3 separate regions of the Homo sapiens genome follow, and regions 1 and 3 are each linked to region 2. The links come from fine-mapping of genetic effects on gene expression. A gene starts in region 2. Each other region holds a variant in brackets. All regions are shown on one strand. Distances are between the middles of the regions.

What was found. PIP is the estimated chance that this variant, and not a neighbour inherited with it, causes the effect. A credible set is the group of variants that fine-mapping cannot tell apart.
Region 1: its variant is the best candidate, but not a certain one, in a credible set for the expression of ZNF594-DT in whole blood (GTEx, PIP 0.75).
Region 3: its variant is the best candidate, but not a certain one, in a credible set for the expression of ZNF594-DT in blood mononuclear cells (TOPMed, PIP 0.81).

The regions. Positions count from the first base shown.
Region 1 is chr17:5,232,156-5,234,913 of GRCh38, forward strand. SCIMP (SLP adaptor and CSK interacting membrane protein) reads right to left here and starts at 2,705. Exons shown (of 5, transcript NM_207103.3): 1 at 2,580-2,705. The coding sequence starts at 2,600. The region is part of intron 5 of ZNF594-DT (ZNF594 divergent transcript); the gene reads left to right. The variant G/A (reference allele first, on the strand shown) is at 1,597.
Region 2 is chr17:5,190,865-5,193,622 of GRCh38, forward strand. ZNF594-DT (ZNF594 divergent transcript) reads left to right here and starts at 1,143. Exons shown (of 6, transcript NR_152840.1): 1 at 1,143-1,299. ZNF594 (zinc finger protein 594) reads right to left here and starts at 1,004. Exons shown (of 2, transcript NM_032530.2): 1 at 884-1,004. RefSeq lists a silencer at 939-1,138.
Region 3 is chr17:5,254,194-5,256,951 of GRCh38, forward strand. No RefSeq gene overlaps it. Among named protein-coding and RNA genes, the nearest start is that of SCIMP, 21 kb to the left of the region's middle. RefSeq lists an enhancer at 325-830. The variant T/C (reference allele first, on the strand shown) is at 1,226.

The DNA of each region.
Region 1 (2,758 bases), 41 kb after region 2:
GCTCAGGGATGGGCTGGCAAAGACATTTTCAGAGCAGCGCCGTGTTATGTTCTGTGTGCAGTTGTTTGCGCTGATGCGTTACAAGCCCCTCTGGTGGTCCCCCGCTGAGTCTTTGGTAAAGTCTGCTGCATCTGCCAATTCTTTTGTGAGCAGATTTGTTCTAGGGGTGTGGGGGACTAAGAAAGGGGTGGAATATAAACAGTGCAGTGTAAACAGTGCAGTATAAACAGTGCAGTATAAACAGTATAAACAGTGCAAACAGTGCAGTGTAAACAGCGCAGTGTAAACAGTTTTACCCACAGAGGCTGCAGGCCCATTGCTGACCATGGAAAAAGAGGTGGGCTCCTCGGGAGTCCACAGAAGTCCTGGGGAGGGCTTTGGACTTCGGCAGGCCTGGAATGAGGGTTCGAACTAATCTCAGTCTAGATCTCGAGGGTCTGAGAGGCTGTAGAGAACATTTAGGCCGGTTGGCATGAGCAGTTCTTGCCCCAGTTCACCTCTAATTCCCCGACTGTTGCTGTTCATGCTAAGTGAGGCCTTGTTCCCACTCGTTCTTCTTCTTTTTTTTTTTTTGAGATGGCGTCTTGCTCTGTCACCCAGGCTAGACTCCACTGGTGCAATCTCAGCTCACTGCAACCTCTACTTCCTGGTTCAAGCTATTCTCCTGTGTCAGCCTCCTGAGTAGCTGGGATTACCGACACGCACCACCATACCCGGCTAATTTTTGTGTATTTTTAGTAGAGATGGGGTTTTGCCATGTTGGCCTGGCTGGTCTCAAACTCCTGACCTCAAGTGATCCACCTGCCTCGGCCTCCCAAAGTGCTGGGATTACAGGCGTGAGCCACTGAGCCTCGCTCCACTTGTCCTTCTCACTGATGTCAGCACCAGAAATGGCCATGTGGATAGTCACTGGCAACTTAAAACCCAAGTGTGCATGGGGAAGTGCACGGCAGGGTCATTAAAAGGAGTCCAGCCTCTCTTCTTCCCTTCTCTATACTTTCACTTCTGGAAAAGACCGGAAACCTTGCCTCATTCCTCTTTCTCCCATGGCCCCATCCCCACCCCGCTTCAGCCCATCAGCCTCCAAATGTAGTCCAAGTCCTCATCTCTGTACCTGGACCATTGCATTTTCGCTGGCCCCTAGCCCCCACTGGGCTCCCCACTGGCTGCCAAATACCAGTGTGACCCTGTCCCTTCCTTGCTTTAAGCCTCTCAGTAGTTTGTTTGTTTGTTTTTGAGATGGAGTCTTGCTCTGTCACCAGGCTGGAGTGCAGTGACATAATCTTGGCTCACTGCAACCTCCACCTCCCGGGCTCAAACGATTCTCCTGCCTCAGCTTCCCGAGTAGCTGGGGCTATAGGCGCCCACCACCATGCCCAGCTAATTTTTGTATTTGTAGTAGAGACAGGGTTTCACCATGTTGGCCAGGCTGGTCTTGATCTCTTGACCTTGTGATCTGCCCACCTTGGCCTCCCAAAGTGCTGGGATTAGAGGCGTGAGCCACCATGCCCCGCCTGCCTCTCAGTAGTTATTTACCACTGAAGCAGAGTGAAGCCTGTGCTCCACATTGCTTCATGGCCAAGACCTCAGGGACAA[G/A]TGGACACACCAGGCAGTGGGAGTGGATATGGCAAAGCCAAACCCAGATCTCTTCTCAAAATAATTTTCCAGAGGGCAAAAGCAGATGGCTACACCGAGAACTCACGCCAGCCCAACACACTTTGATCTCGAGGCCTCTGGAAGGGAAGGTGCCTAATGAACTACTGAAAGCCAGAGATGCAATGACAAAGGTACCAAGACTGGAGGTGATCCAGGTCTTTCATCCAAGAGCCCCAAGACGTAGCCTAAATTCATGCTACGGTAATCCCAGCACTTTGGGAGGCCGAGGCGGGCGGATCACCTGAGGTCAGGAGTTCGAGAGCAGCCTGGCCAACATGGTGAAACTCCGTCTCTACTAAAAATACAGAAATTAGCCAGGTGTGGTGGCGGGTGCCTGTAATCCCAGCTACTCAGGAGGCTGAGGCAGGAGAATCGCTTGAACCCGGGAGGCGGTGGTTGCAGTGAGCCGAGATCACGTCACTGCACTCCAGCCTGGGCGACAAGAGCGAAACTCCATCTCAAAATAAAATAAAAATAAATAAATTGACACAGTCAGTGCCTCGCTCCCACCCCCACCTCCAGCATAGCACCATGACAGTCTTCTCACATAACAAGTCCCAAAACACACCATCGGCATCCAGAAAGTGAGAGTAACTCGTTACAGTTGAGACCTCTCACTCCCGGTCATTATCTCATTTCAATCCAAGAGGTAGACTTCTTCATCGCCCCTGACATACACATGAGGAAAAGGCCCAGAGAGGTGAAGTGATGCCTCAGGTCACTCAGCCAGTTACCAGTAGAGCAGATCCTTCAATGCAAGTTTTTCTCCAACCCTACACAGCAGTCGTACCAGGGCCCCAGGCTGCAATCCCCTGGCCCAGTGCTGATCGGTGGCTCCCAGGGACACGCCCTGATGCCAGCGCTGGCAGATGTCTGCTGTGAAGAGAGCAGGAAACTGTCCCTTGGAAAGCTGAGATGCTTACCTGAACTGTGAAAGTATCCATATGTGAGCAGCTAAGGAGACAGCAGTGGCTGGAGTGCTGCAGCTCAGGCACAGCTGGTGAGAGGCATTCCTCACTCACAGGCCTTCACCCACTGCTAGAGACAGTGAGCCCCATCCTGACCACTTCCCCTTTCTAGTCAGCCCACGGGGCAGAGACCC
Region 2 (2,758 bases):
TATTGAGGCAAGCTGCACCAGCAGCTCCTGGGGACGCGCTCGGTGGATGGCAAGCAAAACCCCTGCATTTATCTCTTTGTGATAGTTTAAGCCCGTGCAATTGGAACTGTTTATATTTTGTAACTGCATTTGTAACCAATTAATTTTTCAACTTTTTGCCAGTTCTGCTTCTGTAAAAATTGCTTCAGCTAAAATCCCCCCTCCCCTATTTAGACCACGGTATAAAAACAAAACTAGCCCCTTCCTCAGGGCCGAGAAAATTTTGGGCGCTAGCTGCCTCTCGGTTGCCGGCTAATAAGGACTCTTTAATTTGTCTCAAAGTGTGGCGTTTCTCTGTAACTCGCTTGGTCACAATAGAAGCTGCTCCTAAAAGCAATGTAGACCCTTACAAAGAGACCAGCCCACCTAAATCCCTCCCTTGTTTGAACTCTAACAGTCCTAATATTTTAGACTGAGTAGTAGAACATATATGAACAATACAGTTCATTCCTGTGGCTTAGTCTAGCCTCCCCAGCGGGGTCACTCGTGGGATGCAAAAACCAGATTTGGTTACATATACAAATATACCTGGCACAGATGTGGGCGAGGAATAATCAATTTATGCCTGACGGTGGATTCTGGGCCTCGGGAAGATGCCGTTAGCGGTACCCACAGGAGGGAACTGGAACAGGCAAGAGTAGCGGGACAGGGCCGGGAATGGGGCACGCCGAGACCAAGAAGCCGACCGAGAGCAAGAAGGCCCAGTCATGCGCACCCGGCGCCTACATCCTCCTGCGGTCCCCCAGGCCTCTCCCCATAGGCATATGAGCTCTGCTCCACTCCTCGCTTGCCGGTGGACGCAGGCGCCGCGGCCGCCAGCTCTGTGAACGCAGCGGGGTCTCACCTCCAGGCTACCCCCAACCTCCCGCTCGGTCGGGGGCCCCTCCACGGCCGCTATCACTGGGTCGCGGCTCCTAGCGCCACCATCTTGGACCCCGCGCCTGGGCCAGGCGAGAACTTCCGGTGCGCTCCCCGGGACTGCGGTCCCCCAGTCCGCGCCCCGCCCAGCCGTCCCCCGTCGGCTCCAGCCAATCCGCGCGCGCTCCCCTGGCCGTCTCCCACCGGATCAGGTGTCTCCTCTGCGCAGACTCCTCCACGACGCCAGTCGGCGCTGGCGTAGCTCGGCTCAGCCCGGCGGAGTCTGACTTCCGGAGGGCCAGCGGCGCGCTGGCTGGTTACCAAGGTTACCGCCGAGAGGCCGCGTCCTCAGCTGGTCCTAGACATGCGTGGCGTCGGGGCTGTGGCACGGTCGGGTCCGGGGTGAGTGACCCCTTCAAGTAACTACGTTTTTGTTCTGCCCTTTTGTTTTGTTTTTGAGATGGAGTCTCGCTCTTTCGCCCAGGCCGGAGTGCAATGGCGCGATCTCGGCTCACTGCAGCCTCCATCTCCCAGGTTCAAGCGATTCTCCTGCCTCGGCCTCCCCAGTAGTTGGGATTACAGGCGCCCACCACCACGCCCTGCTAATTTTTGTATTTTTAGTAGAGACGGGGTTTCGCCATGTTGGCCAGGCTAGTCTCGAACTCCTGTTCTGCCTGTTCTGTTTTCATCTTTTGTTATTGTTCCCTGCATGCATTTGTGGTCTCATTCATTGATGACTTCTATTTGCAATGCCCGGTCAAAGGCTAGGCGATACAGATCCCAACAAGGACAGCTTAATGTTTAAAAGTGTAAGTTCCGAAGTGAGAAAGTCAGACACTCAGAATCCTTGCCCCACCACTTAGGGGCTATGTGACTTTGAACAAGTTACCTATTAATAGCTTCTTCGCGCCTCCGTTGCTTCATTTGTAAAGTGAGGTAAATAATAGGACCGACCTCACTGACATATGTATGTGAAGTTTGCATGTGGCGAAGGCCAGATACATATTAGTTATTACTATGGAGATGATGTTGGTTCGCGTAGCGTAGGATCGTGGTAAGGGTTATATATGTATGTAAAGATGTAAGATGTCCAACCCCAAGCCTTTCCGAAGCAAAACTGTCAGTGCACTAGTCACTTTGGCTTCTCATATCTCTCTGTCCCAAACTTTGGGTTGCACGAATTATGCACGTTTCACTCTTGAATTTGTAAATGCAGCTACTACCAACTATTCCTTAATTTGCACAACTACATTTGAGATAGTATTTCATTGACTGTGTTACATTTTCATTGAAATACTGAGCCATGTCTCAAATAGACTTCAATTATAGTTGCTTTTATAGTTCCTTTTGCTTTACCTCTCTTAATAAGAGTGCACTAATAGAAGTTACTCTTTGGAATTTAGAAATGGGTTTTTAAGGCAGGGCACGGTGGCTCACACCTGTAATCCCAGCACTTTGGGAGGCCTAGGAGGCCGCATCACTTGAGCTCAGGAGTTCAAGACCAGCCTGGCCAGCATGGTGAAACCCCCGTCTCTACTAAAAATGCAAAACAATTAACTGGCATGATGGCAGGCGCCTGTAGTTCCAGCTACTCGGGAGGCTGAGGCAGGAAAATAGCTTGAACCCGGGAGGTGGAGGTTGCAGTGAGCCGAGATGGAACCACTTCACTCCAGCCTGGGCAACAGAGCAAGACACTGTCTCAAAAAAATAAAAAAAAAAATAGACTGTTCCGTGTCCTCTGCTCCTAGAGGCCCAGCCTCTGTGGCCCTGTGACCTGCAAGTATTGAGAGATCCACAGCTAAGACACCGGGATCCTCTGGGAGGCAAAAATGAGTTAGAACTCATAAGTGGGAGTTGAACA
Region 3 (2,758 bases), 63 kb after region 2:
CAACCTCTGCCCCCTGGGTTCAAGCAATTCTCCTGCCTCAGCCTCCTGAGTAGCTAGGTTTACAGACGCATGCCACCACGCCCGGCTAATTTTTTGCATTTTCAGTAGAGACGGGGTTTCACCATGTTAGCCAGGATGGCCTCGATCTCCTGACCTTGTGATCCACTCGCCTCAGCCTCCCAAAGTGCTGGGATTACAGGCACGAGCCACCTCGCCTGGCCATGGGTGCGGTTTATTTCATGTCAATCATAACTCAATAAAGCTGTCAAAAAAAAAAAAAAGAAAGAAAGGTGAGCCTGGGGTTGGGAAGGGTGAGTGTCAGTCAGAACATGGAGAACTCAGAAGCCAGACGGAGGGGTGTAGACGATCCCCCGGTGATGGGCCAGCACCCGAGCATTTCAGAAAGGAGTGGGTTGTGGGAAGCCAACACTGTCAGCAGGATCTGGAATGGATTGGATGCCAAAGAAAGGAGTGTGGGCAGGAGCTCCTTGCAAGGTACCTACTATAGTGGTGGGGGTGGATTCTAGAAATAAAAGGGGGTCATTTGGAAATGAAGGCGAGGTTAGAAAAAGAAAAGGAGGGAGAAGCAACTGGATCCATGACAATTTAGGGCCCGTCCCCCAGCTCCCAAAGCAGTCATTTGATAAACCAAATCGAGGGCAGAGAAGGCTCTTGGAAGCTTGAAAAAAAATTCCTGCTATGTCTGCTTCTTTCTGGTTTCTACCCTGTGTACAGGGTCCTGTGACCACAGCTCTTTCTGCTGACCGCAGCTGGGTATTCCTGCCTATGGAAAAAAACCACTCACTCGGCCCCGCTCACTCAGCAAAGGGGCCCGTGCTCCTGCTCCTGCACCCAACTGGCCTTCAGGACTGCAAGAGGCCCCAAGGGGCCAGCTCTTCCTGCTGCTCTCAGGGGCACCACCGTTACCCTGCCCAAGCCAAGAACTGTTTTCTCTCTCAAGTCAAGTTCCTCCTTTGGTCTGCCTTCTATCTCTCTAGGTGTAATGTAAGCCATGAATATTCATCCTGCCAAAGAGCCTGGAGTCAGTACCTGACTTTTCTGCTCACTTCCTCTCTACCTTGGTCCTACCTCAGTTTACTCCCAAAATGCTGCACCTACCACTATGCCCTGATTAACAGATGACCCCATCAGGTGACAGGAATCTAAATATAACTGTGGCTGGGTGGCTGACTTCCTGTGTGTGCTCAAGGCAAGAGACTAGGAA[T/C]TGTGCCTTCACCAAGCCTGTAGATCCAGATCCTTGCTGCCTGAGACAGCCCTCAGGGTACAAGCTTGCAATCTGATGACAGAGAGAAGGGGAAGGGAGAAGAGGGGTGTGTGGTAGGAGACAGCTTGGTCCAGAGAAAGATGGGTGCCAAAACCAAGGCCAGAGGCAAAGTTTAGAGCCTTGAAAAATGACTAACATCAGTAAGGGATGGGTTCCTGTAAACTTTATTCTACCTAATGAGGAATCTGCGAGCCTTTGATTGACATCATAATAGTAAACTTGTGCCTGAATACCATGCCCAAGCCAACTGTTTCATTCTTTCTTCCATTTATTTATTCATCCAGCAAATATTCATTGAAACCCTGGTGGCTCCAGACTGACCAACATGGTGAAACCCCGTCTCTACTGAAAATACAAAAATTAGCTGGGTGTGGTGGCGCATGCCTGTAATCCCAGCTACTCAGGAGGCTGAGGCAGGGGAATCGCTTGAACCGGGGAGGTGGAGGTTGCAGTGAGCTGAGATTGTGCCACTGCACCCCAGCCTGGGGGACAGAGCCAGACTCTGTCTCAAAAAAAAAAAAAAAGAAACTCTGGTGGCAGACCTACATCCTGCCTTCAAGGAGTGGGCCCCAAAAAATAAAACTAAAAATTACGAACAATATGAAAAGGGCTCCAAAGGGGTCTTCAGCCCAGATCTGGCAGAGGTTGGGTCAGGGAAGGTTTGTTAGAAAAGATTCCATTCACACTCAAGTCCCAAAGGGTTTGTAGGAATAAGCTGAGAGAGGTGTGCCAGGGTCGGACAGATGGGCTGGGAAGACTCTGAGGGAGCAGTAAGCAGTCTGGATATTGGGCACTTAGGGTGAAATGGCATTGGGGGCCGGGATGAGGTGAGGCAAGGCTGGGCATACTGGCAAGTTCCTAATCTTGAATGCCTTCATTCACTCACTAACTCACCGAACAAATATTGATTGATTGATTGATTGATTGAGACAAAGTCTCACCCTGTTACCCAGGCTGGAGTGCAATGGCGTGATCTCAGCTCACTGCAGCCCCCGCCTCCTGGGATCAAATGATTCTCCTGCCTCAGCCTTCTGAGTAGCTGGGATTACAGGTGCCTGCCACCACGCCTAGCTAATTTTTGCATTTTTAGTAGAGATGGGGTTTCACCATGTTGACCAGGTTGGTCTCGAACTCTTGACCTCACGTGATCTGCCCACCTCGGCCTCCCAAAGTGCTGGGATTACAGGTGTGAGCCACCGCTCCCGGCCTGAACAAATATTTATTAAGGACCTACTCTGGGTCACACATTGTGCTGGGATCAAGAATAGTTTTGGCACTTTGGGAGGCCAAGGCAGGAGGATTGCTTGAGCCTAGGATTTTGAGACCTTGTCTCTATTTTTTTTTTAATTAGCTGAGTGTGGTGGCATGCACCTGTAGTCCCAGCTGCTCAGGAGGCTAAGGTGGGAGGATCACTTGAGCCCAGGAGTTGGAGGCTGCAGTGAACTATGATCAAGTTGCTGCACTCCAGCCTGG